7 linked regions of the Homo sapiens genome follow. The protein of the gene in region 6 purifies or fractionates together with the protein of the main gene of each other region. This does not show direct contact. Each region holds a gene or a part of one and is shown on either strand. Other genes may lie near its edges.

The links.
Region 1: the proteins of DCP1A (region 6) and MAP2K1 purify together in Homo sapiens (affinity purification with mass spectrometry; one large-scale study listed by BioGRID and IntAct). This does not show direct contact.
Region 2: the proteins of DCP1A (region 6) and MARF1 purify together in Homo sapiens (affinity purification with mass spectrometry; one large-scale study listed by BioGRID and IntAct). This does not show direct contact.
Region 3: the proteins of DCP1A (region 6) and PATL1 purify together in Homo sapiens (co-immunoprecipitation; 2 studies listed by BioGRID and IntAct, with this or other methods). This does not show direct contact.
Region 4: the proteins of DCP1A (region 6) and PPP1R37 purify together in Homo sapiens (affinity purification with mass spectrometry; one large-scale study listed by BioGRID and IntAct). This does not show direct contact.
Region 5: the proteins of DCP1A (region 6) and ALDH18A1 purify together in Homo sapiens (affinity purification with mass spectrometry; one large-scale study listed by BioGRID and IntAct). This does not show direct contact.
Region 7: the proteins of DCP1A (region 6) and HINT3 purify together in Homo sapiens (co-immunoprecipitation; one large-scale study listed by IntAct). This does not show direct contact.

The regions. Positions count from the first base shown.
Region 1 is NC_000015.10:66,385,436-66,389,711, forward strand, and holds the start of MAP2K1 (dual specificity mitogen-activated protein kinase kinase 1), read left to right. Parts: upstream 1-1,476; 5' UTR 1,477-1,912; coding exon 1,913-1,992; intron 1,993-4,276. UniProt on the Homo sapiens protein: Dual specificity protein kinase which acts as an essential component of the MAP kinase signal transduction pathway.
Region 2 is NC_000016.10:15,622,030-15,626,513, forward strand, and holds part of MARF1 (meiosis regulator and mRNA stability factor 1), read right to left. Parts: intron 3,772-4,484; coding exon 3,343-3,771; intron 3,145-3,342; coding exon 2,987-3,144; intron 2,899-2,986; coding exon 2,740-2,898; intron 1,098-2,739; coding exon of another isoform or gene 1,095-1,097; coding exon 905-1,094; intron 1-904.
Region 3 is NC_000011.10:59,637,478-59,641,961, forward strand, and holds part of PATL1 (protein PAT1 homolog 1), read right to left. Parts: intron 1,907-4,484; coding exon 1,815-1,906; intron 1,721-1,814; coding exon 1,571-1,720; intron 935-1,570; coding exon 913-934; 3' UTR 1-912. UniProt on the Homo sapiens protein: RNA-binding protein involved in deadenylation-dependent decapping of mRNAs, leading to the degradation of mRNAs. Acts as a scaffold protein that connects deadenylation and decapping machinery.
Region 4 is NC_000019.10:45,144,598-45,148,188, reverse strand, and holds the end of PPP1R37 (protein phosphatase 1 regulatory subunit 37), read right to left. Parts: intron 3,336-3,591; coding exon 3,194-3,335; intron 3,096-3,193; coding exon 2,929-3,095; intron 2,837-2,928; coding exon 2,140-2,836; intron 1,800-2,139; coding exon 1,717-1,799; 3' UTR 1,709-1,716; intron 1,619-1,708; 3' UTR 904-1,618; downstream 1-903. UniProt on the Homo sapiens protein: Inhibits phosphatase activity of protein phosphatase 1 (PP1) complexes.
Region 5 is NC_000010.11:95,608,200-95,612,318, reverse strand, and holds part of ALDH18A1 (delta-1-pyrroline-5-carboxylate synthase), read left to right. Parts: intron 1-876; coding exon 877-1,063; intron 1,064-2,026; coding exon 2,027-2,122; intron 2,123-4,119. UniProt on the Homo sapiens protein: Bifunctional enzyme that converts glutamate to glutamate 5-semialdehyde, an intermediate in the biosynthesis of proline, ornithine and arginine.
Region 6 is NC_000003.12:53,309,114-53,313,597, forward strand, and holds part of DCP1A (mRNA-decapping enzyme 1A), read right to left. Parts: intron 3,267-4,484; coding exon 3,128-3,266; intron 1-3,127. UniProt on the Homo sapiens protein: Necessary for the degradation of mRNAs, both in normal mRNA turnover and in nonsense-mediated mRNA decay. Removes the 7-methyl guanine cap structure from mRNA molecules, yielding a 5'-phosphorylated mRNA fragment and 7m-GDP.
Region 7 is NC_000006.12:125,959,137-125,963,620, reverse strand, and holds part of HINT3 (adenosine 5'-monophosphoramidase HINT3), read right to left. Parts: intron 1-4,484. UniProt on the Homo sapiens protein: Exhibits adenosine 5'-monophosphoramidase activity, hydrolyzing purine nucleotide phosphoramidates with a single phosphate group such as adenosine 5'monophosphoramidate (AMP-NH2) to yield AMP and NH2.

The sequences.
Region 1 (4,276 bases), on a different chromosome or scaffold from region 6:
TCTTTATTCACATCTTATTTCTTTAGTAATTCACAGAATTGGAATTTTTGGATTAAAGTTCTTTTTTTTTTTGAGACGGGGTCTCACTCTGTCGCCCAGGCTGGAGTGCAGTGGTGTGATCTTGGATCACTGCAACCTCCGCCTCCCGAGTTCAAGCAATTCTCTGCCTCAGCCCCCCAAGTAGTTGGGATTACAGGCACCCGCCACCACGCCCAGCTAATTTTTTGTATTTTTAGTAGAGATGGGTTTCACCATCTTGGCCAGGCTGGTCTTGAACTCCTGACCTCGTGATCCACCCGTCTCGGCCTCCCAAAGTTCTGGAATTACAGGCGTGAGCCACCGCGCCTGGCCTGGATGAAAGTTTTTTTAAAGGGAGTCTTGCTCTGTAGCCCTGGCTGGTGTGCAGTGGTGTGATCATAGCTCACTGCAGCCTCAAACTCCTGGGCTCAAGTGATCCTCCAGCCTCAGCCTCCTCAGTAGCTTGGACGACAGCTGCACACAACCATGCCCAGCTAATAGAGACGGGGGACTCACTATGTTGCCCAGGCTAGTCTCGAACTCCTGGGCTCAAGTGATCCTCTTGCCTGGGCCTCCCAAAATTGGGATTACAGGCGTGAGCCACCGCTCCTGGCCCGAAAGAGTGTTTTTAAGGCTTTAAAAAAATATTGCCAACATGGTGAAAACCCGTTTCTACAAAAATACAAAAAGGATCCGGGCATGACGGCGAGTGCCTGTAATCCCAGCTACTCAGGAGACTGAGGCAGGAGAATCGCTTGAACGTGGGAGGCAGAGGTGGTAGTTAGCGGAGATCGCGCCACTACACTCCAGGCTGGGCAACTGAGGGAGACACCGTCTTAAAAAAAAAAAAGTTCCCAAGTCTAAAAAAAAAAAAATCATCAATCTGCTCTCAAAAACTGTCGCAACAATTTACAATCTCATCAGCACTGAGTATCCATTTCCTTGCACCCTTCTCAGTAGTATTACCATTAAACAAACAAAATTTATATGCGTCAGTTTGTTGGGCTCAAAGGAGCCTCTCGACAAGTTTCCTATTCCCCACGCTGCCTCTCCTCTGGACACAGGAAGGGGTCCTTTTCCTTATTTATTTTGTTATTTCATTTTCGTCAACACGGCTCGGCTTGGGGACAGGGGTCGGGGGCAGGCCGGTTACCGCAGAGGTGGAGGCCGCGCGGCACCTGGCCTGGAGAGCTCACCACACAGCGACACAGACTTCTTCTCAGCTGGGTCCACCTGCTTGCCTCGGGGCGACAGAGGGCGCCACGGCGTCCGCGACGGACCCCGCCCCCAGGCAGTGCGCCGCGCTCCCGTGACGTATTTCCGCGTCATCTGCCGCCGAGGCTTGCCCCCATTGGTTGTCTGCGAGGCAATAGGGGCGGAGCCGAGTGGGAGTGTGGAAAGCGCCGCATCCCGGGTGGGAGGCGAGGCTTCCCCTTCCCCGCCCCTCCCCCGGCCTCCAGTCCCTCCCAGGGCCGCTTCGCAGAGCGGCTAGGAGCACGGCGGCGGCGGCACTTTCCCCGGCAGGAGCTGGAGCTGGGCTCTGGTGCGCGCGCGGCTGTGCCGCCCGAGCCGGAGGGACTGGTTGGTTGAGAGAGAGAGAGGAAGGGAATCCCGGGCTGCCGAACCGCACGTTCAGCCCGCTCCGCTCCTGCAGGGCAGCCTTTCGGCTCTCTGCGCGCGAAGCCGAGTCCCGGGCGGGTGGGGCGGGGGTCCACTGAGACCGCTACCGGCCCCTCGGCGCTGACGGGACCGCGCGGGGCGCACCCGCTGAAGGCAGCCCCGGGGCCCGCGGCCCGGACTTGGTCCTGCGCAGCGGGCGCGGGGCAGCGCAGCGGGAGGAAGCGAGAGGTGCTGCCCTCCCCCCGGAGTTGGAAGCGCGTTACCCGGGTCCAAAATGCCCAAGAAGAAGCCGACGCCCATCCAGCTGAACCCGGCCCCCGACGGCTCTGCAGTTAACGGGACCAGCTCTGCGGAGTAAGTATGGGGCGGGCGGTGAACCTCGGGGCCCGGCTGGGGAGGCCCGAGCCGGGGAGCAGGAGCGCGCGCCAGGCTCCGATCTGGTTTGTCACGTACGTCTGGGGCTGGCAGGGGGCGAGAAACTCCCGGCCGCCGAGGTATCGGTGACTAAGCACTGATTGTGTTCCTGACTCAGACCAGTTAGCGGATCCCGCGGGTCTCCATTCCTCTCTGTACCCCTTTTCCCGACCGTTTTAGTGGTTCCTGGCCACTGTACAGTCTTCTCCCAAGAAAATAAAAGCTAGCACGTCTCCCCTGCCTCCTCCCAGTTCTGTTCTAAATGTGATCATCTGGGAGTCTGGCCTGTAACGGGGAGAGGAGGCTAATGTTTTGGAAAGAATTAAGATCGCATCTGTGCTTTTGAGACCAGCTCAGGGTATTAAGTGTGGAGCATCATCCTCACCTTCATGCCTGACACCTGTGGGGCCTGAGTGCCTTGTTGCAGGCCAACTGCCTGGCCAGCGGGGGCGTGCTGGAAGTCCGTGTGGACTTCGTGGCTTTTCCTTGCTGACTTTGGAGGTTCCTGGTACTTGGCCTTCCTGGGAAATTGCTCAAGAAAGCGGCTTTCTTCTTCATCCTACTCTTCATTCATTCATTGAACAAACCATTTTCTCACTAATGATTTCCTAGCTTTCCGTACTTCACCAGGAGCCCCTAAACTCCTGACCTGAGGCATGAACACCATGACCTAGAAACCACATGCTAGGTGCTCCATCTCTGCAGCTTCCAGCGTTGCTTACAAACGAGCACTTTATTTCATTAAATAATCATGAGTCTGTTTCCTGGGGGTTTCTGAGCTCCCACAACTCTCTTGGGTTCTAGGTAAGGGACAAGACTATGTGAGGGAAAGCTGCTTAGCTAGCTAGAGAAATAGCCAGAAAAGATTAGGTTATTATTATTTTTTTGCCTTTTTTTGGTTGTTGTTTGCCCAACCTTCAATAAGGATTGGGTTCTTAATCTTTTACCTGCACACTGCAGACTTTAGGAAGCTAATTGATGAAATCAGAATAGGCTTGGACCTTATGCTCTTTGGTGATTTCTGTAACCTCCCTTCCTTTCTCTAGATTTTTAGAAAATTTTATTTTTTAAACTTTTATACAGATGGGGTCTTGCTATATTGCTTAGGCTGGTCTTGAACTCCTGGACTCTAGCGATCCTCCCAAAGTGCTGGGATTACAGGCATGAGCCACTATGCCCAGCCAACTTTCTCTAGATTTTAATAACCCGGGGACCTGTTGGCTTGATGACTTGTTCCATCCCTGTAATGATCACAAGGTCGATGGTGGACCTGTGGTGTGTGTTCAGCTGTGTTTTTCAGACCTGCTCCCAACAGACTCTCTTCTTTAGTCCCCTCTCAATCCTGTGGGGTCTATTTTGCATAATACTGACTTGTATAGGTAGTTGGATTGCATTATTGCATTGCAAACATTTGTTCTTTTTTTTTTTTTTTTTTTGAGTCGGAGTTTCACTCTTGTTGCCCAGGCTGGAGTGCAATGGTGCGATCTTGGCTAACTGCAGCCTCTGCCTCCCGGGTTCAAGCGACTCTCCTGCCTCAGCCTCCCGAGTAGCTGGGATTACAGGCATGCGCCACCATGCCCGGCTAATTTTGTATTTTTAGTAGAGATGGGGTTTCTCCAAGTTGTTCAGGCTGGTGGCAAACTCCCGTCCTCAGGTGATCCACCTGCCTCGGCCTCCGAAAATGCTGGGATTACAGGCATGAGCCACCGTGCCCAGCCCATTTGTTCAGTTTTAGTATACAGTGTTTCACCCTCTTAAAATAGACTGAAAGTCATGACTGTTGTTAGGACAAGTTTTGACCACAGTGGATTCTGGCTGAGTGTTATGGCCTCATTATCCTTTCCTATTTGATTTGGAAGTGGATACTGAGTAGAAGTACCTGTTATCATTCTGTTGTAATCGTGATACCACAACTGTATTCTCTCAAGGAGGAGGAATTTCATTAAAACAGTAAAAGCAGGATGAGAAGAAACTACCCCAGATTTGGTGGCAGAAAAATTTGGATGGTACTGGGAGAGTCTAAACAGTGGTTAAAAGGTAAGGGCTCTGGAGTCAGGCTAAGTTTGAAGCCTAGCTCTGTTGTGGTTTTTTTTTTTTTTTTTTTTTTTTGACAGTCTCGCTCTGTTGCCCAGGCCAGAGTGCAGTGGTGCGATCTCGGCTCACCACAACCTCCACCTCCCGGCTTCAAGCGATTCTCCTGCCTCAGCCTCCTAACTAGCTGAGA
Region 2 (4,484 bases), on a different chromosome or scaffold from region 6:
TGTCTGAACTCTGCTCTTCTGCTGACCAGGACGTAAGAAAGTGAGGATAGGGTGACCTTTAGAGATGTGACACTGGCCCGGCCTGCCTGTGTGCTCTGGCACACACAGGTTTCCAAGGCAGGCTCAGAGGCCAACACATGGGAAGAGTGTTTGGGGTCTTTTCTAGACTCTACAAAACCCAGGACATGGCCATTTTTAAGAATCTACTAAAAAGGTGCATTTTTAGCAAAATTGCACCTAAAAAATGAGTCAAATATAATAAGGCATAAACAAGACCAGCCAACATTATTTTAGAATCCTACCTGTATTTCAGCAGGAAGAGCTAACTGAAATCCATCAATGTTTTACTTATCAAATTGCCTTTTTTTTTTTTTCTTTCTGAGATGGAGTCTCACTCTGTCTCCCAGGCCAGAGAGCAGTGGCGTCATCTCAGCTTACTGCAACCTCTGCCTCCCGTGTTTAAGCAATTCTCCTGCCTTAGCCTCCTAAGGAGCTGGGACTACAGGCGTGCACCACCACGCCCGGCTAATTTTTTTTTAGTAGAGACGGGGTTTCACTCGCCAGGCTGGTCTCAAACTCCTGACCTCAGGTGATCTGGCCGCCTTGGCCTCCCAAAGTGCTGGAATTACAGGCATGAGCCGCCATGCCTGGCCACAAATTGCCATTTCAATTTCTGCCTAAGACAAGAGCTTTTCACTGCTAGGCGTCTTGCTCTCTGGGGCTAACATTGTAAAAACTGGATTTATAGCACCACCCTGAGCAGACCAAAGGGAAAAGGAAGGAGTTCAAACTTGTTCAGTCACACTTCTATCCCGGCTGTGGTTATGTATATCAAATTAGGTCCTCTTGACTAGAGACTCCATCAGAGAGTATAACAAAGCAAGCACAAGAGGGAAAAAGTTACCTTGCCATGCCTGGCAAATGCTTCCTGCAGGAGCTGCTGCAGCTCCTTCCGGGATAATCTGTAGTCTATGTTGCTGACTTGGACATCAGCACCATTTGCAAATGGGTCTGGGCAGTCGGCTTCGCTGCTCGAATTTGCAATGTTGAAAGCAAGCGGGGATGCTCTGTTTAAAAGGTTTGGAGACATACTCCTGCTTAAAACACACATATTGACATTATTTTAAAAAACTGTTCTGTATATTTAGATTTTATCATTTAGGCTTTGTTTGAAACTATATACAGAAGCAGATTTTCCACAACACAACCAAACCAAACATTTGGTTTTCAAATGTGTTTTTAATCTTTTTTTTTTTTTTTTTTTTTTTGAGACAGAGTCTCGCTCTGTCACCCAGGCTGGAGTGCAATGGCACGATCTCGGCTTACTGCAACCTCCACCTCCTGGATTCAAGCAATTCTCCTGTCTCAGCCTCCCCAGTAGCTGGGACTACAGGCATGCACCACTACACCCAGCTAATTTTTTTTATTTTTGGTAGAGATGGGGTTTTACCATGTTGGCCAGGCTGGTCTTAAACTCCTGACCTCAAGTGATCCACCTGCCTCAGCCTCCCAAAGGGCTGGGATTACAGGCGTGAGCCACTGTGCCCAGCTGTGTTTTTAATCTTAAATACACATTGATTTCAGACATTGTCAAAAGTACTATCTACTGACCCCTAATTACCGCCAACCAATTAATATATATTCTTCCTTTGGGTTAAAGCTAAAGGCAGGAATTAGAGGCAGTCCTGATGAATTAACCTTCTGCTTTGTGCATTATCCTTAGGAAATCAGCCTGTGATACCAATTTAAGGCGTCTAACCTCCTCTGTGTCTCTGAAAGAGTTAAACGTTCTTGCCTACATGTTACAGTTCTTTCTGCACATAAGGAAAACTTTTATGTGGCTTTTTAGATGTAATTTTATAGATCCATAGTCACTTTCTCTTTTTTTTTTTTTTTTTTTGAGACGGAGTCTCGCTCTGTCACCCAGGCTGGAGTGCAGTCATGCGATCTGAGCTCACTGCAACCTCCACCTCCCAGGTTCATGCCATTCTCCTGCCTCAGCCTCCCAAGTAACTGGGACTGCAGGCACTCACTACCACGCCCGGCTAATTTTTTGTATTTTTAGTAGAGATGGGGTTTCACCGTGTTAGCCGGTTAGCCAGGATGGTCTTGATCTCCTAACCTCATGATCCTCCCGCCTCGGCCTCCCAAAGTGCTGGGATTACAGGCGTGAGCCACCACGCCCGGCTGATCCATAGTCACTTTCTACAGTGATCTGCCACCAACTCAGCAGAACAAACACAATGCTAAAAGGAGCTCATGGGAATGCAACACGGCCTTACGGCTTCTCTGTCTCCCAAGCATCAAGAATTCCTTGGTGTGAGAGACAGTGATAAATAATTACCATGGTTTACAGAAAACTTTACTTCCAAATAGCTTCCTATACAGAACCATATGAATCAGAACCACCAATGCACGGCTCGTTTGGGCTTTTTCCTCAACACAGCGAACATAGGGACATCTTTACATGCCCCCCTGCACTGGCCAGGGACTCTCCAACAGGCTTCTCTTTCTGACCTCTGCTTACCACAATTTCCAGATGGAGGAAGAAGAAATGGTGAAAGCATTGCCCCTAAATGTTAACGATGATTACCTGAGGAGAGGGGGACTGGCAGAAGAGTGATGGGAGACTTACTTTGTGCATTTCAGTACTATCTGAATTCTTTTCAACAAACATACTATTTCATAATCCTTCCTATTACATGTAACCACCCCCATGGGTCAAGAAGCTGGACTCACCTAGAAGACCAAGACTGAGATGCGAGCAGAGGACTGACTTGCCTGGATGCAACTAACTTGCTAAAAGCAGACGGGTAACTCACTTGGAATACAGTCTCCTCTTTATCTTTTTTCTCTACAGGAGAACTGGTAACACTTCGGGCACTGAGGTTCTCCTTTCTAACAGAAGGGGAAAATTGAAGGCAAAAGGTCATATGTCTTCCTTCACATTCAAGAAGCAGCTATGAGAAAGAGTAGTTTCACATACTTCTGACTGGTTTTGTAAACGGGTTCTGCCACCCCCGAGTTTTTCGGCGTCGACACTGCAGCACTTGAGTTACCGTGAGTGGGTACGACCAGCCTCAGGTGACCTTGCTGGTGCTCACTGTTTCTATGACCAGTTTTTGACTCCATGCGGCACAGCTCCTTCAAAGACACAAGCACAGTGGGGTTTAAATTTTAAGTACCCAAGATGTGTTAGATCCTTTACAGAAAACGATTGACTTTGAGTATCATCAAACACTGAAATCAAAAAGGGACACGCCAAAAGCAAGCGGGCACGTAAAACACAGAAACAAACCAAACCTACCATAAACTTCAGAAAGCAAGAGGTATCAAAATTACCTGTAAACTTTTAACATTTGTATTTTTTGTAGCAGATCCAGAATTTGCCTGTGACCCTTTTCCAGGCGTGGCTTTGGCACTGGAAGATTGTTCACTTGCATCTTTGATGAGGCACAATTTTGGATTCTTAAGTTTTTTGGGAGACTTCACTTTATCAGCAATTGCATTTGAACTCTTTGTTTCACAGAGTTCTCTATTTTTTGGAGTAAATGACACAATGATCCTATTACCAAAGACATCTTCGTTTTCCATTCGCTTCTGAGCGCGCTCTGCACTATCTTGGTTTATGAAGCGGAGAATTGCACTGCAGCCTGTGATACTCAGCACTTTCCCACCACAATTATCGGACAGGCGTCTGAGCCTGTTGCTGACGCTCTTGCCATCCTTATTTGCTGGTAGGTTATAAACATAGAGCAGAGTGTGGCACTGCTAATACAGAGGAAAGAAGTGTTACGTCAGGTTAATTCAAGGGCACACATTCAATTTCAAAATAAGAACAATGGGTGACCTCCAAACTTCAGTTAACAACTTTGAAGAGAAGATGACAGTGATTTAGATGGGAGAGGGTAAATTATTTAGTGTTGACAAAGTAACTGAATATTGTTTTAAAGAATATGCTTTAGCTGGGCATGGTGGTGCATGCCTACAGTCCCAGCTACTCAGGTGGGAGGATTACCTGAGCCCAGGAAGATTGAGGCTGGAGTGACTGTGCCACTGCACTCCACTCTGAGTGACAGAGTGAGACACTGTCTCAAAAAATAAAAATAAAAAAGAATATGCTAGGCACAGAGGTCTGTATACTATATGATTCCATTTCTATAAAGCATCCAGAAAATACAAATCTACAGAGACAGAAAGATTAGTAGTGCCTGGGAGTGGGGAAGGGGATTAATTATAAATTAGCATAATAGATTTACTGAGGTGACAAAAATATTCTAAAATTGTACAACTCAATTTACTAAAAATTATTGTACACTTAAAAGAGCTGAATTTTGTAATATGTAAATCATATCTCAACGAAGTTGTTTTTTAAAAGTCTATTTATTCTGCAGGTCTGCTGAATAATAACTTATAGAGCCAGAAGGTGAGCAGGGTCAGTCCTGGTTGGTTTTTGCATAGGAGAATGCCTGGGAATACTAGGA
Region 3 (4,484 bases), on a different chromosome or scaffold from region 6:
GACAGGGCAAGTGTGCAAAAAGCCACACTGCCAAAGCAGGCTACTAGTGAGGATCATCCTGGGTGACTTCGAATGCACTTGAGGGGAAAGGCTCAAGTACCCTGTAGTTGTAGCAGGAAAAAGACATAACCATGTGTTGTTTCGATTAAGGTGGACAGAAACTAAGGAAATAAAGGTGGGAAGAAGAAAAAGGACTTCTCAGCCTAGACCTGGGCATAAGCCAATTAAGAGTTCTGATTTTATTAAACGTGCTGCATACTCTTTATTTATGTTAAAACAAGTAGAACCCACCAAATTAATTACAAGATAGAACAGAAACAGATTAAAATACATCAGCTGGTTTGTGTTTAGAAGAGGTAATGAGACAACTAAATATTTTTCAATCTAAAATTCATTCTTTAAGGACCCTCTGAAGACCACATAAATACATGTATGGGGTGTGTGTGTGTGTATCTATGTGTGTGTGTATATCTTGATTTCTACTTAATTGGCTCTTCTATAGTCATATTAATATGGGGCAATGAAAAAACAACTTCAATAGGATGAGGGAAGGAATCCTTTGGCAGGCTACAATCTACTCTGAGGTGGAGTAGTGGAGGGATAAAGGGAGAGATTACACTTGTGTCTCTAGGGCAAAGAAAATGCAAAACAGAACTGAGTAAAAGTAGGACATGCAGAACTGTAACACAGAAGGTAAAGAAACCAGCAGAAGTATCACCCAGCCAAATTTCATAGAGCAGTGGGGAAATATCTGACATTTAGAGAGACAACCCCTGTAAACAGGAATCGATCCCACAAGACTTTGCTTTGGGGAAAAAGCTACCTTCCTTCCCTCATTAAAAACACTCCATTGGTGATGGCAGCAGTGCAGGTGGCAGCCAAAAGGAGGTACAGGACACATTTGGAGATCTTTTATCGTATCCCCTGAACTAGCCTAGGAGTACAAAGGAGAGAAAGGAAAATTGTATAAATGAGTTAAAACAGAAGGCAATCTTTCATATTACAGTTACATCTTTGTAAGACTTCTCATAACAAAATACCCGAGATTATTTCTCTACCCTTAGCATTTGGTCATCTTTTATGAAGGCCCTGTTGTACCCAGTTCAGTGTTTTATATCTAACAGATACACAAATAGTTAATAAAAAGTCAATCTCTTCCACCAAATTCAGTTTTATTCCCCCCTCCACCCCAATCATAACTTCTTTTTATTTATTTTTTTTGAGACAGGGTCTTGCTCTGTCACCCAGGCTGGAGTGCAGTGGCGTGATCTCAGCTCACTGCAATCTCTGTCTCCCGGGTTTAAATGATTTTCATACCTCAGCCTACCGAATAGCTGGGATTACAGGCATGCACCACCGCACTTGGCTAATTTTCGTATTTTTTTAGTAGAGACAGGGTTTCACCATTTTGGTCAGGCTGGTCTGGAACTCCTGGCCTCAAGTGATCCACCCTCCTGGGTGTCCTAAAATGCTGGGATTACAGGTGTGAGCCACCGTACCCAGCCTCCCAACCATAACTTCTAAAGTCCCAACTTTAGTGAGATGTGAAACTCTCCTGTTTCAAACTTACTGCAGTTTTGTCTCCAGCAAGTTCAGTTTCTGCCGGTCAACATAGCGAGAAAAGAGGGACACTAGGTTTGTAGGTATAGAGATTGGCTTGGCCAGGGCTGCTTGGGGAATCCGCAGAAGTTCTCGTGTTGCCATGAACATCACCTCCGTCCTGACAGGGAAGACCCATAATAATATCAGGAGAAAAAAATTTAAAAGATTACCTCAAAGAACTTAAAATAAGAGAAGAAACAGTCCACACTGACCACTGATTATTTTGTGTTGATTCTGTAGCAGGGTCTGAACTCTGTAGGTCTTCACCACGGCTCAGGAGGATGAGGAGCAGTGACAGGCCAAACTACGAGAAAAGACAGAGGGAATCAAACTCAACACTGTGTCTAAACCTCCTCCACCACTGTTGAAGGGATCCTGGCATCAGATGGGGAACAGCTCTAAATCAAAATAACCTCACTACTGTGCTTTTCTGTAAAACCAGGTAAAGATCAGACAAGCATGAGTTGAAAGGCTATGTCTCTCTCCAGGCTTTATTCTGCCATAGCAGTGACCAGGCGCAGCCAACAGAAACGGAAAGTCATGGTGTCCAACACGCCTCTCTGTTCCCCATGCTGAGGTTAAAAGATGGTTTTTCCTTGCCATGGATAATGTAGAATTTGACTTTTCTCCTATTTATGAGAACAGAAATAGGCTAAAAAAGAAAGTAAATGAAGACCAATTTTGGTACAGAAATTAAAAATCAGGAAAAAATAAGAAAAAAGCATTACAGTAAGATATTTTGAATTAAGAAACAAGGTGTAAACTGTAGGAAAATATACAAATAAACACAACTGAAATAAACATGGTATAAAGAGAAACTTTCCATTAAAAAGCACATCTCTATCTGGAAATACAAAGTCTTAGACAGAATGTTAATAAAAATCTAAAAAATAAAAAGAGAGAAAGGGTAAACAGATGTATACACCGTATCTATAATTAAAATTCAGCAACATGCTTTAGAGTATGCAATATATAAAAATGGTCAGGTGTGGTGGCTCATGCCTGTAATCCCAGCACTATGGGAGGCCAAGGTGGGTGGATGACCTGAGGTCAGGAGTTTGAGACCAGCCTGATCAAAATGGTGAAACTCCGTCTCTACTAAAAATAGAAAATTAGCCAGGCACGGTGGCACATGCCTGTAATCCCAGCTACTTGGGAGGCTGAGGCAGGAGAATTGTTGGAACCCGGGAGCTGGAGGTTGCAGTGAGCCAAGATCGCACCATTGCGCTCCAGCCTGGGCAACACGAGTGAAACTCCATCTCCAAAAAAAAAAAAAAAAGTAACATATAAAAATGTGTTTTATTTAGTGGACAGTAAAATCAGGAAATGTAGTCTTTGGGGCATAGGATTAAAATATGGGACGGGCGTGGTGGCTCATGCATGTAATCCCAGCACTTTGGGAGGCCAAGGCGGGTGGATCAAGAGGTCAGGAGATCGAGATCATCCTGGCTAACACGGTGAAACCCTGCCTCTACTAAAAAATACAAAAAATTAGCCAGGCGTGGTGGCGGGTGCCTGTAGTCCCAGCTACTCGGGAGGCTGAGGCAGGAGAATGGCTTGAACCCAGGAGGCGGAGCTTGCAGTGAGCTGCGATCGCGCCACTGCACTCCAGCCTGGGTGACAGAGCAAGACTCTATCTCAAAAGAAAAAAAAAAATGAACAGGGGGCTGGGGATGGGCATGGTGGCTCATGCCTGTAATTCCAGCACTTTGGGAGGTGGAGGCAGTACTGCTTGAGTCCAGGAGTTCGAGACCAGCCAGAGCAACATAGTGAGACCCTGTTTCTGCAAAAAATATAAAAATCAATCGGAGGCTGGGTGTGGTGGCTCACACCTGTAATCCCAGCACTTTGGGAGGCTGAGGCAGGTGGATCACGTGAGGTCAGGAGCCCCGGACCAGCCTGGCCAACATGGCAAAACCCTGTCTCTGCTAAAAACACAAACATTAGCCTGGTATGGTGGCGGGCACCTGTAATCCCAGCTACTTGGGGGCTGACGCAGGAGAACTGCTTGAACCTGGGAGGCAGGGGTTGCAGTGAGACAAGATATCGCCATTGCACTGCAGCATGAGTGACAGAGCAAGGCTCTGTCTCAAAAAAAAAAAAGTCAATCAGGCATGGTGGCACATGCTACTCAAGAGGCTGAGGTGGGAGGATCGCTTTGAGTACAGAAAGTTGAGGCTGCAATGAGCTGTGACTGTGCCACTGCACTGAAGCCTGGGTGACAGAGTGAGATCCTGTCTCAAAAAAGAAAATACAAATAGGGACAAGAAGGTTTAGGTTAAATGTATGACTCATACCTATAAATGGATCATAAAAGGAAGGCTGGCAGTACTTTGGGATTCCATTCCAACTTTCTAGACTCACTCACTTTTCCACAAAATTTCCCTTCATGGCCGGTTGCAGTAGCTCACACCTGTAATCCCAACACTTTGGGAGGTCGAGGCAGGCTGATAGCTTGAGCTCAGGAGTTTGAGACCAGCCTGGACAACATGGCGAAACCCCACCTCTACAAAAAATACACAAATTAGTTGTGCGTGGTGGCATGTGCCTGTAGTCCCATCTACTTGGGAGGCTGAGGTGGGAGGATGGCTTGAGCCCAGGAGGCAGAGGTTGCAGTGAGCCGAGATCTTGCCACTGCACTCTGGCCTGGGTGACAGAGAAGACCCTGATTTAAAAAAAAAAAATCCCTTTTCATGTTATTCTCAGAAAAAAAATACTACTGCCTTTACTAAAATTAAAACTAAGAGACCAAATAACAGAAAGGCACATTCCGGATCACTCCAGAACCCCAGAGGCACTGTCACCTCTTCTTCCTCTGATACACTGACCTTTAGAGTCATGCTTTGGTAGGTTTTCTGGTGCAAAGGAGCAAGAGGCCTTGA
Region 4 (3,591 bases), on a different chromosome or scaffold from region 6:
GCTCCAGCCTGCGACTGTGGTTCTCGTGATGTCACCACAACGCCTCCATCCATGTCAGCCTCCCACACGGGAAACAAGGGGATGGGTGGCCCAGAAATGCTCGTTTAGTAATTTTTTTTTTTTTTGAGACAGGATCTCACTCTGTTGCCCAGGCTGAAGTGCAGTGGTGCAATCACACCTCACTGCAGCCTCAACCTCCTGGGTTCAAGCGATCCTCCCAACTCAGCCTCCTCAGTAGCTGGGACTACAGGCACACGCCACCACACCCAGCTAATTTTTGTATTTTCTATGGAGATGGGGTTTCACCATGTTGCCCAGGCTGGTGTCAAATTCCTGGGTTCAAGCAATCCTCCCACCTCAGCCTCCCAAAGTGCTGGGATTACAGGTGTGGGCCACCATGCCCGGCCTGCTCCCCCCTTTCCTAAAGGGAAAAACAGACCTCTCAGAAATCCGCAACAGCACCCCCATGGCCCCCCAGGCCCCTGCTGGCAAAGGGGAACAAGCCGCCCACCAGGCTCCTGCAGTGCTGGCTGGGCCCGGGGCATACTCCCACCTGCACAACACCTGGGGCTGCCAGGGACAGGCTGGGATCTGTTCCTGTTGAGCGATGGGCGACTGGGCAGAGCCACTCCATATCCAGCATCCTGAGACCCTAGACCTGAAGCCAGGAGGTATCTGGGGCCTGTCTCTCCCTGCAGAAAGGATGGGTGTAAACTCGCCTGGCTGGGAGGTGACCGTACGAGACACCAGAGCATGGATGCAGAATAGACGGGACTGTGGGGGAAGACGCAGTAATGCCTGACCAGTGCCCTGGCAGATGCTCTGTAACCAGGAGCTGTGATGGCCTCCACCCAGCCCACCCCCAGCAACCACCTCCAGGATCCGCACGAAGCAGACGTTGGGCAAAGTGAACCCAGCCCCAGTTTATTAGAAAAGGTGTGAACAGAGTTGCACCGACAGGAGTAGCCCCAGCCCTCTGCCCACCCTCACCCACACCCATGCCACTCGCCCCCAAAGGGCTGTAGTGCCTCTCAGGGCGCAGCCTCCAGTGGCCTGGACAGCAGGGTCCCGGAGTGCCGGCTGCTCCCGCCCCAGCTCCCTGATAGATTTATTGCACTTGAGAAAAAGAAAGCTCTGATCCTCTGCTCCCATCCCCCCACCCTGCCCGGCCTGCGCTGTCTGGGGCTGTTCTGTGCATCTCAACCACCACCAGCACGCACCGCCTCTCCGGCACCAGGCTGCCTGCCCGGCCCTGTGCCCGGGGCCACAGGGGACCATCCCACCACCACCCAGGACGCCTGCCCTCCGCAGGGCAAGCCTGGCCCCTCCAGAACAGGCGCCTGATGTCCTTGGAGACCTCCTCCTCCTCCTGCTCCCCCTCCTCCCATTCACCCCCAGAGTCTTCCAGTGCTGGGCTCATAAATAGAAGTGCTTGAGTCACGCGCGGAGGGCCACTCCCTGTAGCTCCTGCACCCCTTGTAGTGTTGCTGTGGGGGGAGGGGGGCCCCAGAATGGCCCCCACCCCTGGCATCCTGGGCCTCAGGAAGGCTGGGGGGAAGGTGAGCAGATTCTCATGGCTCTGGCCTCAGCTCATCGCAGACCGACCGGAAAAAGGGAACTTGGGGAGGAGAGATTGGGGGAGAGACTGTCAGAGCCAGAGGCTCTCTCAGCTCCTCCCGAGTGCTGTGGGCCCCGGGCCTGGCCTCACCTAAAGTGTCACAGTGTCTCCTGCCCGGATTCCTGACTGGCTTCCAGAAGCAGCTCCTCGAGCTCCTTCTCGTTCTTGGAGCAGCTCAGTTCTGTGTGGGAGGACGGGCCAGCACCCCCGTCAGGCGGGTGGGGCAAATACAACCTGTCCCCAGCCCGGCCCCAGCCAGACCCTCAGGGCCTGCAGAGTGCCCAGAGACCGCTGAGATGGTCAGGCTCAAGGCAGCACACCTTACATGCCCCCCCACCCCAGGAAGAGCTCCCAGGACCCAAGGGAAGCAGGGTGGAGATGAGAACTAAGCCCCACTTTGCTGGCCCCTGCGAGAACCATTTTAAAGAGGGGGAAACTGAGGTCCACAACAGGCAGGGGCTTGCCTGGGGTCACATACAGCACCCAGGGCCCCTCAACACCTGCCCTAGGGCCCCTCTCACCGTGCTCCAGGCCGCAGCTGCCCCCCTTGACCTCAGGCCCCGGGGGCGGCTCAGGGGGCAGTGCCAGGGCGAACTCGGGCTTCAGGCCGTTGGGCAGTGGTGGCCCTGACCGAGGCGGCTCCGGTGGTGGCTGAGGCTCAGAGGACCCTGTGTCCCGGGTGTCAATGGCCCCGGCTGGTGGTAGGGAAGGTGAGGCGGGTGGGGAGGGAGGGGGTGGGGGAGAGGGAGGGGTGGGGGACGCAGGGGGCTCTGCCCTCTCGGGCGGGCTCTCCACCCGGGTCACCACAAACACCTTGTGGCCCCGGCCCGGGCTGGACACGGAAATCCGCTGCTCGGTGGGTGTGGAGGGGCTGCCTGGGGGACTCCTGTCCCCAGGGCCCAGGGAGTCCGTGGGGGGCACCAGGGCAGGACAGGGGGTCTCGTCCCTCTCCCCTTCCTCTTCCTCCTCTTCCTCCCCATCCGAGTCCGAGTCTGAGTCTGAGTCCGGGCTGGGTGCGGGGCTGGGGGCCCCGTTCTGCACCCCAGCGGCGGGCTCGTCGTCGGGCTGGGGCTCGGTGGCGGTGGTCTCAGGCATGGAGGCCGACAGCTGTGGCGGCTGCTCCTTCTCCTCCCTCTCCCGCGCCAGCACCAAGTTGCGCTTGCAGCCGTTCTGGATCTCGGCCAGCAGCGCCTTCTGCGTCTCGATGAAGCTCTTCACCTGTGGCGGGAGCGCCTGGCTAGGGCTCTCAGGCCGGCCCCACCACCCGGCCTTCCGCCCGCCCCAGGGCTGCAGGACCGTCCCCTGCTCACCGCCTCTTTCTTGGGTTCACGGTCGAGGTCCAGGCGCAGCAGTGAGTGGTTCACCTTGAGGGCCAACGACAGTGCCATGAGCCCGCCTGTCTTGATCTCGTTCTCCCGAAGGTCCAGTCTCAGGAGGCGGGGGCTCTCAGCGATGAACTCCGCCACCGCCACCGCGCCTGGGGGGGCACCGCAGGGGCTGGCCACGGGCCCCACACCCGGCTGGCCGCCCGGCTGAGCCCACCAGCCCGCACCCTGGCCCGGCCCCGTACCCTACCCTCGCACGTGAGCTTGGTGGAGGCCAGCCCGAGGCGCAGCACGCTGCGGTTGCTGATGAGCCCGTTCTTGAGGTGCCGCACACCCTCGTTCCCGATGGGGTTGTGGCCCAGGTTCAGCGTCTCCAGGCTCTGAGTGTGCGGCTGGAGGGAGGGGGTGTGAGGGTGAGGAGGAGGCCGTGATGGCGGAGGAGACCCAGGAGGCCAAGTCAGGAAAGAAGCCGGGAAGAGAGCCAGGCCCGGGCGCTCCTTTTCTTTCGCGCGCCTGCGTGAACACCGGCGCCGTCCTGCCCTGCCGCAGGCCTGGCCTGAAGTCCCTCCTGTGCCTGAAGTCTCCCCAAATGCCAGGTCCCCCGTCCACTCCCAGCTCCCCAGGCACCCAGTCAGTCCCTACCCCCCA
Region 5 (4,119 bases), on a different chromosome or scaffold from region 6:
CAGCAGCAGGATTAGAGCCAGAGCCTGGGGCTGAGCTGAACCTAGAGGTGGGGCCAGACTGACGCAGTTGGAAATCAAATGAGTAGCCACAGTTTCAGGTGCTGAAAGCACCTGACCAAGTACTGCTTACCTCTAAAGCAAACCTGGGACTTCGCTAGGGTACAGGGAGTAGCAATGTATATGTGGCACCTCCCTTTTTCCACACGAGTCTAGTGCCTAGGTACCATATGCAGGAACTGGGATCTTTATTGTCAAGTATTCATTTTAGGAAAATGCCAGAAGTCAAGCCCTTGTGTTGATAACCCACTAAACGCCTTGCACATTCTTTTTTATTCTTTTTTTTTTCTTTGAGACGGAGTCTTGCTCTGTGCCCCAGGCTGGAGTGCAGTGGCACAATCTTGGCTCACTGCAACCTCTGCCTTCCAGGTTCAAGCAGTTCTCCTCCTGCTTGAACCTCCCAAGTAGCTGAGATTACAGGCACCTGCCACCATGCCCTGCTAATTTTTTTAGTAAAGACGGGGTTTCACCATGTTGGCCAGGTTGGTTTTTGAACTCCTGACCTCAAGTTATCCACCCGTCTCAGCCTCCCAAAGTACTGGGATTACAGGCGTGAGCCACCATGCCCGGCCCACCTTGCACATCCTTAACGTTCAAGGCTTCCTGCTTCAATCCCTGTTCCAACTGTCTTGAGGGCCCATTGCTGGCAAGTGGCCAGTCAGATCATGCTGGAGGGAGGAAAGTAGGACTAGTTCAGTTGTTGAGGCTACAGGAGCCACTTTGGGCTGTGGTTTTACAGGCTCACCTTTCTGTTCTATCCTAGAACTTGCTTATTTCAGTTGTTTTTATGTTGTTGCCCCTGGACTTCCTCTGTTCCAGGTAAAAATTCATGCAGGCCCCAAATTTGCCTCCTATCTGACCTTCAGCCCCTCCGAAGTGAAGTCACTCCGAACTGAGTATGGGGACCTGGAATTATGCATTGAAGTAGTGGACAACGTTCAGGATGCCATTGACCACATCCACAAGTATGGCAGCTCCCACACGGATGTCATCGTCACAGAGGACGGTCAGTGTCCAGATGCTTCCCGCATACAGTGTCTGCCTTTGCTGCTTTCTGATCCTGCTCCTCTTAGCCCCCCTTGGGCTGCAGAAAAACATCATTTGAGTAGGCTTATGGTAATGTTTAGTAGTGGTTGCATTTGGTACTTTGATGAGTGCTTTCACATCACTTTATTATATTGTCACAGCTGGAGGAGGAGGGGCAGGGATGATTAGCTCTGCTTCGAAGATGACTAACCCTGTCAGAGGCACTATCATTTAATGCGTGCAGCAAATCTTACAAGGTAGTTAAAATAAACCCATTTTACAGCTGAGGAAACCAAGGCAGAACCAACTCTGCACATTCATTCATTCATTCATTTATTCCACAAATATGTATGCAGGGACACTCCTGGGTGTCAGATACTGGAGCCTCAATGGTGGAGGATGCCAGTAGGGCCCCAATGAGGAATTTACAGTCAGCTAATTAGGGCACCAGAGCAGTACCACCCGTATTAACAGCCAACATTTACCAAGCACTCACTGTGTGCTAGGCACTAGCATGAGTACTCCCCAGGTGTTTCATCCTCTCTACAACCCTATCAGCTAGGTCATGTTGTAAGTCCCTTTTGACCCAGACACAGAGAGTTTTGTACACCTGCAGAAGGTCACAAAGCTAGCAGGTGTACAGCTGGAGTTCAGGCCTAGGAAGTCTGGCTCTGGAGCCCATAAGTAGGAAGTTTAGGCAGGTCACCTGCATGGGAGATCTGGATTCCAACTCAGTCTTTCCACAACACCGTGATTGATGAAGCTAACTTGTCTTCTTCCTGTTGAGATTTTTCATAAGCCTGAGTATTTAATACGTGAGAACACATGGAGAGGCCCCAGTGGGGACCCAGACCCTGCCCTGATCTGTCACCAGTCAATGGCTGGAAACAGGGATGTTCTCTGGGTATCATCCTAACTTGGTTTCTCCTTCTTCACCCTGCAGAAAACACAGCGGAGTTCTTCCTGCAGCACGTAGACAGTGCCTGTGTGTTCTGGAATGCCAGCACTCGCTTTTCTGATGGTTACCGCTTTGGACTGGGTAAGAAAGACTCTGGTTGGGAAGAAAGAAGTTCCTTGTGAAGCACTGTGTGGTCTAGGGGTATGTTGAGGTGGGAAAGACACCTCCCCTTGACTGTCACATGCTTGGTCAAGATAAGAGAGAAACAGGCTGGGTGCCGTGGCTCACGCCTGTAATCCCAGCACTTTGGGAGGCCGAGGTGGGTGGATCACCTGAGGTCAGGAGTTCGAGACCAGCGTGGCCAACATGGTGAAACCCTGTCTCTACTAAAAATGCAAAAAATTAGCCAGGTGTGGTGGTGCATGCCTGTAATCCCAGCTACTCAGGAGGCTGAGGCAGGAGAATTGCTTGAACCCGGGAGGCAGAGGTTGCGGTGAGCCCGAGATTACGCTACAGCACTCCAGCCTGGAGGACAGAGTGAGACACCATCTCAAAAAAAAAAAAAAAATAGAGACAGACTTCTGGCAAGGTAGGATTATCAGGGAGAATAATTAATGAAACCTCCCATGAGTTGGTGGAAGGCCTATCTTCTAAGCATTTCACATGCTAAGAAGGCAGGTACTTGTATTCATTTTTCAAAGAGGGAGAATGAGATTCAGAGAAGTATAGTAACTTGCCCAAAGTCCCACAGCTGGCATTCAGACCCAAACTTGAGCAAGTCCAAAGCCTGGGTTCTCCCGCTACAGCGTGGGCAACCACAGCCTGCCTTTTTACACAGGCTGCGCCAGAGGTACATGCTGTGTCCCTTGAGAGCACTCCTTTTACAGACTTATTTCGTCAAAATGGCACAGCCAGGTTGCCTCGGAGATAGGAAACCCCACAATGGTAGGACAAAAGAAGGTGCCGTGGGCCTAAGTACCAGCATCAAAACAAACAGGCCAGCCAGAAGTACAAGGTTACCTTCTACAGCAGACCTTGAAATAAAAAGCTTCAGAAGGGCACTTCTGTCCCTTTCCATTAGGTATAAAATTTCCAGCCCTCTGTCGTGTTGGGGTTATTTGGACAGTCTCTCGTTTTCAGGGGTACCAGTATATAAAACTCCAGAACGGGCGCAGTGGCTCACGCCTATAATTCCAGCACTTTGGGAGGCCAAGGCGGGCAGATCACCTGAGGCCGGGAGTTGGAGATCAGCGTGACCAACATAGAGAAACCCCATCTCTACTAAAAATACAAAATTAGCTGAGCATGGTGGCACTTGCCTGTAATCCCAGCTACTCGGGAGGCTGAGGCAGGAGAATCGCTTGAACCTGGGAGGCAGAGGTTGCAGTGAGCCGAGACCGCACCATTGCGCTCTAGCCTGGGCAACAAGAGCTAAACTCCATCTCAAAAAACAAAACAGACAAAAAACCTCCAATAATACATTTATGACACGTTTTCTGAATATTTGAGAATTATTTCAACCACTCAAAACATTTTAGGCCACGGGCAGTGGCTCACACCTGTAATCCCGGCACTTTGAGAGGCTGAAGCAGGAGGATCTCATGAGTCGGGGAGTTCGAGACCAGCCTGGGCAACGCAGCGAGACCTCCTCTCTACAGAGATGAAAAAATTATCCAGGTGTGGTGGCGTGAGCCTGTAGTCCCAGTTACTCAGGAGGCTGAGGCAAGAGGATCCCTTGAGCCCAGGAGTTCGAGGCTGCAGTGAGCTAAGATGATGCCATTGTACTCCAGCCTGGGAGAGAGTGAGGCCCTATCTGTATAACAAAACAAAACAGAAAGACACACATTTTAATCCTTCTGAACTTTTTGAGTAGATGATCTGCCTGGAGAAATAATTCTCACCAAATTGTTAAAAGGTTATGAAAGGGAATTTAACTCAGTTATTCTTAATCATGATACTCTTTATTTTTAGTTCCCCATTTGTATTATGTTGGGATTTTGATGTAATTATCACATCACTTGCATTGATCTTTATACTCTCCATGTACTTGAAAAAGAAATAGCAACATATTTTTAAGGGCTGGGGCACCCAGCATTCAAATGAAAATCCAGGATGAAGGAAGAACAAAAGATCATTTC
Region 6 (4,484 bases):
GTAATCCCAGGACTTTGGGAGGCTGAGGCGGGCCAATCACGAGGTCAAGAGATTGAGACTATCCTGGCCAACATGGTGAAACCCTGTCTCTACTAAAAATACAAAAAATTAGCCGGTCATAGTGGTGCATGCCTGTAGTCCCAGCTACTCAGGAGGCTGAGGCAGGAGGATCACTTGAATCTGGGAGGTGGAGGTTGCAGTGAGTCGAGATCGCGCCACTGCACTGTAGCCTGGCAACAGAGCGAGACTCCATCTCAAAAAAAAAAAAAAAGGAAAGTTAATTAAAAGATATTATAGAAGTGCAATATCTTTCTTTTGAAGAAAATGCTTATTATACAGATTTTTAATTTTCAAACAGTCTCTAGGCTGGCCACAGTGTCTCACACCTATAATTCCAGCACTTTGGGAGGCCAAGGCGGGAGGACAGCTTGAGCCCAGGAGCTTGTCAAGATCAGCCAGGGCAACATAGTGAGACTCTATCTCTACAAAAAATAAACAAAATTATCCAAGCATGGTGATGCATGGCCTATAGTCGTGGCTAATTGGGAGGCTAAGATGGGAGAATGTCTTGAGCCTGGGAGGTAGAGGCTGCAGTGGGCCAAGATTGTGCCCCTGCACTCCAGCCTGGGCAACAGAGAGACCCTGTCTGAAAAAAGAAAAGAGTCTCATTATTACAAGTGCTCATTCAAAAGTCTGAAATTTCGTTCATTATATCATACTCAGCAGATAGCGGAGACTCAGAATCAGGATTAAATCCCAACACTGAGGCCTAGCTTGCACCCCTGCCCTTGATTGCCAATCTTCTGAGTCTTCACCTAAAGATAAACAAAGGGGCCGTCTGAAAAAATGTGGCAGCTGAAGGGAGCCCATCCAAACACCAAGACCCATGAATTCATGGGTCACTGCTTATACCAGCTCCATCTGATGAGATGATAGACAAATGCAGATAAGAGAACAAAACTCTAATTCAAAGAAGCTCCACCTATTGCAGACAGTTTTCAAAATCAGAAAGAACACATGATAAAGTAAATATCAAAGATTTAACCAAATCCCAAAGGGTTTCATTTTAATCTACCCATAGACGATATTTTATTCCATAGTGTGAAAGAAGTTTATTTAAAACAGAAACTATCATGCTATCTATATTCCTTTTGTAATATTGATATAATTCAAAATAATGTCAGATGTTTAGATTGCCCACCTGACCCTAGAGTTCCTTTAAAGTTTTGTGTTCAAAGCTAATGTCTTATTTCCTACTTTCTCGTTGTGGCTACTTAACCTCTCAGCCTGAGTAAGCCAGGCCACTTACTGGAGTATCTGCTTTAGTGCGCAGCACCTACAGTTTCTGTCCCGTGTGGTACCTTGATACAGTTATTACTCAGGATGAGTGACAGAGCCCTGGACTTACTAGGTACCTATGAGAACACTGAAAGGGCTCTACAAACAGAACAAAGTATGTACGTAGAAAATCCGCTTGTCATCAAGGGTAGAAGAGGGGAATGTAAGGTAACTTCTAAATCAGAAAGCCATTCTTGAAGTTAGTTCTCATTTGGTTTCCTAAGAATCGATTAATTTATTAGAGAGGTGACTGCTCCTCCAAATTTAACTTCCATAGATCCATTCATTCCTCCTAATTCTCTGTGAGACATTGAAGAATTTGGTACAAACTTGAAACTTCTCATGGGCTCTCATGTACATTTCTCCACCCTGGAGGTGGGACTTCCTTTGTTATCAGAATGTAGAAGGTCTATGTAGTTTATGGTGAACATGCCTATTTTTAGTCAGAAGAAACTATCTTTCAGAACACTTTTTTCAAACTTTTTCCTGAACTCCAAATTCTTGAGTTGTTAAAGGGCAGTATGCAAAAAATGGTCCTGCAGTCAAGTCAATCTGGGAATTGGTGTTATTGTTTTACTTATTGCAGGACCTCTCAGTTTTGAGCTCTGTAAAGTCCCAAGAGGATGGGAGGAGGAAGAGTCATGCTAACAACAGTACCTTAACTCGTTTTGCCAATTTGAAGCTTTTTTCAGGATCACTGATTAATAACTTAGTAGCTGGTATTATAGCAGAACTGTATGGGAAACAGGGTCTTTTGGACAGTGCTTTTTCACATTTTGTTCCTTGAAGTTCTGGTGAGGTGAAATAGGCATGAAAGGAAAGCACTTAATTCAATATTTAATGAAGAGTAAGGTGACAGTATAATTCTGCTAAAACAAAGTTCAGCAGTAGAGAGCTTGTCTCACTCCAGTGAAGTGTGGGGGCTTTGAGGTGCCAAGTAAAATTCCAGGAGAGTCATAACCATGAAATGCCCACTGCTTGCACATAGTAGATGGTTCATAAGCAGGTATTGAATAAATTAACGAAAGTACCACAATTGCCATTTTATTCAACTTTTGGGAGAAAATTTTATCAGCTAATTTATAAACTAAAATGCACAACAGAAGAGAAAGAAAACAGTGAATTTCAGAAAAGCCTCTCATTTGGGTAAAATTCCAAATGAAGCTTAATGAAGGTTGTGCATCTACCACCAATTACAGACCATGAGTGTATTTTTTAGTATTATGTGGTACAAACTATCAGAATACTTTTCAAAGCCTAAACAAATTCCTAGGACCACTGAGGATCCTAACAGAAACTGCAGTGGTGAAGAAGAGGCACGAAGCTTTACCAGAACTAGCTGCTGCGAGCTAACTTCTGCACTCCAAGACCATCTTCTCCCATAGTAATCTTATAGGAATAGAAAAAAGCATTGTAAATTTTCCTGCCAAAAACAAGTAATCTGGGGTAAGCAAGTTCTTTCCTTATGTTTTAGGTTTAAAATTGTAAGACACATCTGTTTTAAAAAAAAAAAAAGAGAGACACAGGGTCTCACTGTTGCCCAGACTAGAGTGGAGTGGCACAATCATAGCCCACTGCAGCCTCCAACTCCTGGAGTCAAGTGATCTTCCTTCCTCAGCCTGCCAAGTAGCTGGGACTGATTACAGGAGTGTGCTAACACGCTCTCTTTTTGAACTTATATTTCTGCCGTCCCTGGAGGCCAGCTTCCCTAGTAAAATAGTCTCCTGCAGACCTCCTCCTCCCGTTTTGGTCTTCCCTGGTCAGCACCCAAGTACCCAGAGAGCCTCACCCTCTCATACTCATCCTTGGCTCTGCTCAGCATCTCCAGGATGTCGATGGGCCTGTGGTCGCTGCAGCCATTGGCCTGGCTGGGACTCTGTTTGTCCCGAGCAGCTTGCTGGGATCGCCGTGTCTCCTCTTCTACCACACTAGAGGAGAAGAACAAGGTTTTAGAAAGGCCTCTTGAAACAAAATCTGACCCAAGATTTCTTTTGGTGTTCATCTTCCAAGGATACACTAAGAGTGTCACATGATGACATTCTTCTTTTTTTTTTTTTTTTTTGAGATGGAGTCTCGCACTGTCGCCCAGGCTGGAGTGCAGTGGTGTGATCTCGGCTCACTGCAAACTCCACCTCCTGGGTTCACACCATCCTCCTGCCTCAGCCTCCGGAGTAGCTGGGACTACAGCGCCCACCACCACACCCGGCTAATGTTTTGTATTTTTAGTAGAGATGGGGTTTCACCGTGTTAGCCAGGATGGTCTCAATCTCCTGACCTCGTGATCTGCCCTAGGCCTCCCCAAGTGCTGGGATTACAGGCCTGAGCCACCGCGCCCAGCCGATTACATTATTCTTGCAATATATAACACAGAACTTCAGTTACCTCATTTCAGAAATAAATGACTTACCATTTCACCGTCTCATTAACAGTGCCAATATTTACCCTTCAGAAGGATAAAAATACAGAATTCCTTCCTAGAGTTGGCAGAGATGCATTACAAACTCCACTAAGGTTTCTCCCTTTTTCCCTTGAAGTATTTCAAAATCAGTCAAACTAATTGCTAAAGTAAATATGAAAACTGACAGTTCCACCAAGACACAGGAAGGCTGCATAGTTGAACAAATCCTCTGTGGAAAGTTTGGATTGACACTGGGCTAGCAAGGACAAAGTCAGTTCTTGAAAATAGAGGTCTTGGTGAATCCTTAAAAGTTAGTAACACTATAAGCAAATAAAAGGTTTCCCTTATTCTCCCTTTTAAAAACCACCAACTTAGCCTGGGCAACTTGGCAAAACCCCGTCTCTACAAAAAATACAAAAATTAGCTGGGCGTAGTGGTACACGCCTGTAGTCCCAGCTATTTGGAAGGCTGAGGTGGGAGGACTGCTTGAGTCTGGGAGGTAGAGGCTGCAGTGAACTGAGATCACACTACTGCACTCCAGCCTGGGTAACAGAGTGAGACCTTGACTCCAAAAAAAAAAAAAAATCACTAAGTGGGCTTTCAGTTTTTAAGAACACCCCCTTCTCCCTTGTAAAGAAAGATCTGAAACAATTACAGCAAAATATTAGGAACTGAAAGCTGGGTGGTAAGCACATACATATTTTATTATTTCCTATATTTTTCTTCAAGCTTTCAAGCTTGAATAATA
Region 7 (4,484 bases), on a different chromosome or scaffold from region 6:
CCAACTTTTATCCTTTTGGAAATGCATGGATTAGAGGAAGAGCTAGCCTATCCTGACTTCATTATCACCACTGACTCTAATAAACAATTTAAATACAACGAATAACTGTTTCAGATTTCTTTAAATCTGAAAACCCAAATAGGGCAGACTGGCACTCAACCTCCATTCTAAATATTTCTGTGCTTTCTGTAATGCAGAACTAAAAAAGCTAAAAATCCCAGAGGGAATTTAGATCTTGCCAATCAAAAAGCCATGTTTTTGCTGCTTCTGTTATCATCCATCTAGCAAACTTGGCCAGCTTTAAGACTACAAAGACAGGTTTTCTTTATCTTTCTCCCCCTCCCCCTTTTGAATACCTTATCACTAGCTTCACGGATGTCAAGAATGGCAAGACATCTATTTTTTGTTGGGAAAAAGCTGCCAGCGTGGACCCAGCAGATGGAGTGTGGCTCTGAAGCAGTGTTTCTCAACCAGAGGTGGAAATACATAGACGCCCTTTTGATCACGCATACTGCTAAAATTTGGTGCGCCGAGATCGGGGATGCTAACCATCTTCCAACAGGGGACAACGTTCAAGTTAAATTGGCACTGAGTTATTTCCTCAGTATAGTTCCAAGCAAGGTAAATTCTAGTCCAGTGTTACTCAATTACTTTTTCATTATTTTTTATCTAATGAGCCTTTTAAGACTTTTTTTTCTTCTAATCCCATCTCCATGAGATTTTAATACCACAGCTACACTCTCTGTTTATGTATATCTGTGCCTCATACATGAAAAAGTAAGATATTGCCCCACCACCACCAAGAACCAATTTTCACCCCTTTGGGAGTGTCATCTGCCCCATTAAGAATGCATGGTTCAGCCTTTGCTTAGTTTTAAATCTGCAGTATACAATTAGACAACACCATATGGAGGTTTATGGAGTGAAGAATCTTCTACAGCTTTTGCTGGAAAGGTTTGCCAGACTAACCCCTCATGATGCTGGTAACTCCAATTTTTCCAAATGGAAATTTTTCTCTTTTGTACCTGAATTACACTTTATATAAACCCAACAGTTTCTAAATGTTTGCAATGAATATATTTGAATGAGTATATGAATGTATGATGTAAACCATCGAATTATGTTATGTAGTTATTCTTTTTAAAAAGATTAATCTTTACCCTTTAATGAGTGAGCTCTTGTACATCAAGTCATCTTAGATTCAATTTGAAAAAGATACACAACCTTTGGGAGCACTATTATACACGCATCTGTATCTTACGTTTTGTATTATACGGTTATGTGTGTGTGATATATATATATATATATGTGTGATATATATATATATATATGTGTATATATATATGTATGTATATATATATATATGTGTGTATATATATATATGTGTATATATATATATATATATATGTGTATATATATATATATATATATGTGTATATATATATATATATATATATGTGTATATATATATGGGTTTCCATCCACGATTCCTGGCTTATAACTCCCAATGCCCTTGTTACAGTCTTTTGTTACCATGTCGAGGCATTTTAGGCCTCAGAGACAGGCCTCAGAAAAAGAATCTCTCTCACAATCTCTCTGCCCTTCTTTTGCCCTCCCCTCACCTGCCCAAGTCAGGACTATAATCTTCCCTGACCTTTCTGATTGTGGGTCATAAAACCCTCATTTCTGAAGGGATTCTGCCTCATACCCTGGAGGAAGGAAAGCTTCACAGAGAGGCCAAGAAGAATCTGGACAGGCCTTGCTGGGTTTCCCCACTCAGTCTACTAGTATTAGATCATACCCTTTTTGTCCAGTCACATTAATACAGAATTGTCAGTCAGGCCTATCCAATGAAGACTCCATAAAAGGCCCCAGAGAACAGAGTTTAGAGAGCTTCTGAATAGCTGAACTCATGGAGGCTCCTGGGAGAGGACACGCCTGAGGAGGACATGGAAGCTCTGCCCCCTTTTCCCCATACTTTGGGCTATTCATCTCTTCAGCAGCATCCTTTGGTATATCCTCTATAATAAACCAGTAAACCTAAGTGTTTCCCTGAGTTCTGTAAGCCACTCTAGCAAGCTTTAGAACCCAAAGAGAAGCTTGTGGGATCCCCAACTTCAAGCTGGTCGGTCAGAAGTTCCAGAGGCCTGGACTTGCAACTAGTGGGAAGGGCAGGCCAGTCTTGGGGACTGAGTCTTCAACCTGCGGGATCTGATGCTATCATCAGGTAGATAGTATAAGAATTGAAATGGAGGACAACCAGCTGGTGTCTGCTGCAAAACTGATTGTTTGCTTGGTGTGTGGGGGAAAACCTCCATACATTTGGTCACAGAAGTGTTCTGTGTTGATTGCTGTTGTTGAATGGGAAAACAAAAAAAGCACAGTTTGTGTTTTTCCACTGACAATGGGCTATTGTATATATTCCCCGTTTCCCTAATTTAGGGTGTAAATTAGTTGAAAGTACTGATCATGTCTTATTTCTACCATGAAAATATCCCCAGTCTCTTCATATTGTTTACTTTGTTCCTAACCAAGAAAAATTCTCACCTTGGATGTGATAGAAGTCTGGATCCCACCCCTTTTGATGACTATTTTCAGACAAAGCTTTCTACTGCTACTAGTATCTATTTTCTATTAGTTTCATTATTGGAACTGCAGAATACAAAATTTAAAAGCAGTTTCTAAGGATCTACTAAATATTGAACTCTGAGTTTAAAAATGCACTTTACCTCTCTTTAGCCTACTTTTATATTTAGTAAAATAAAGGGAGACTGAAGAGGCAGAACTAGGTCCCTTCTGACTCTATGGGTCAGTCCAACAAAGGTCTGCAAACAGAAAACTGATGTGCGTATTCTTTCTCCCTGTCAGGTGCTGTCTTTACTTCCTTCTCCTATTCAGCATATATTCCATGGTCTACCACTTCAGCCACTTGCTTGCCCTAACTTCTTTTTTTTTCCCCCCCCCCAGAGAGAGTCTTGCTCTGTCACCCAGGCTGGAGTGCAGCGGCGCGATCTTGGCTCACTGCAACCTCCACCTCCTGGATTCAAGCAGTTCTCCTCCCTCTGCCTCCCAAGTAGCTGGGATTACAGGTGCCTGCCACCACACCCAGCTAATTTTTGTATTTTTAGGAGAGATGGGGTTTCACCATATTGGCCAGGCTGGTCTCGAACTCCTGACCTCGTGATCCGCCTGCCTCAGCCTCCCAAAGTGCTGGGATTACAGGCGTTTGCCACTGCGCCCGGCTCCATAACTTCTTAACTGTGTCTCACTACACTTCTATAACAACCACATGGCAAAATCCCAACCCTGGGTCAATACAACTGCCTACCTTGTGTAATCTCAGCCTTTGGCTGCTGCTGGAAAGTGGGAAGAAAATCACACAACTAAGCAGACTGGTATGACCTGAAATTGAATGTCCTCAACCTCACGTGACCCGCTGTACAACAATCCTTGTTTCCCTAATTCTCTCTCCTAGCCTTCACAGGAGCTACTTCAAACCTTTTACTTGTAAATAACCATATAACCATATAATTGCTCCTTCTCCTTTTTCAAGGCTTAACCCAAATGTCACCTGCTTAGTGCAGATTTTCCTGACTAAAATTTTAAAACTGCATCCCCTTCCTCTTTATTTTCTGCCATCTAATAAACTATAAATTTTACTTATTGTTTTGCTTATTATCCTTTTCTGCAACGACAATGTGAGCTCCACAAGGGCAAGGAGTTTTGCATGTTTTGTTTACGGCTGTATCCCCATGCCTCCAACAGTGCCTGGCACACAGAGAGTGAGGAATGAGTTTCCTCTTTCCCAGGGTCAACATTCTACCCGCCGGGCCATTTTAAACCTCTCTCTATAGGCATCTTCCCACTGGGATTTGAACACACAAAAGGTTTCACTGTTTTAAAAGCTTTCTCTTAATCCCCAACTTCTCCTGTAGCTACCACTACCTTTCCCTCCTCCCCTGGATTGCCAAATTCCTGTGAGAGTTGTCTGTATTTGCTGTCTTCACTCCTTCCTTTCCCAAGTTCTTCTCAATCAACTGCTATCTGCCTTTTGCTTCACCACTTCATGAAATTGCTCTCCTCAAGGTCAATGAACATCACTTTGGGGACACAACCAGTCCTGCTCTGACTCTGCAAGGACATACAAGGGTCATCTAACCCAGATTTGAGGATGAAGGCAGGCTAATATTGCTGCTGACATTGCTGGCAATTCCTTTCTTTTTGACATACTCCCTTCTCTTAGCCTTTCCAGCGTTCCTTCTATTTCTCTGTTCCTTCTCTATTCCCTTTCCAGGTCCTCTTCCTCTGTCTGTCCCTTATGATGTTAGTGTTCTTCAGAGTTCTGTGTAGGCCTCCCCTTCACTTTTTACCTCATGGGTGATCTCATCGCTTCCCTTCTTTTTCAGTTTCCATCTATAAACCGACAGTTCCTGTAATCTGGGTTAGAGATACAGATCCCTCTACAGAGTGCTAGACTATCCAAC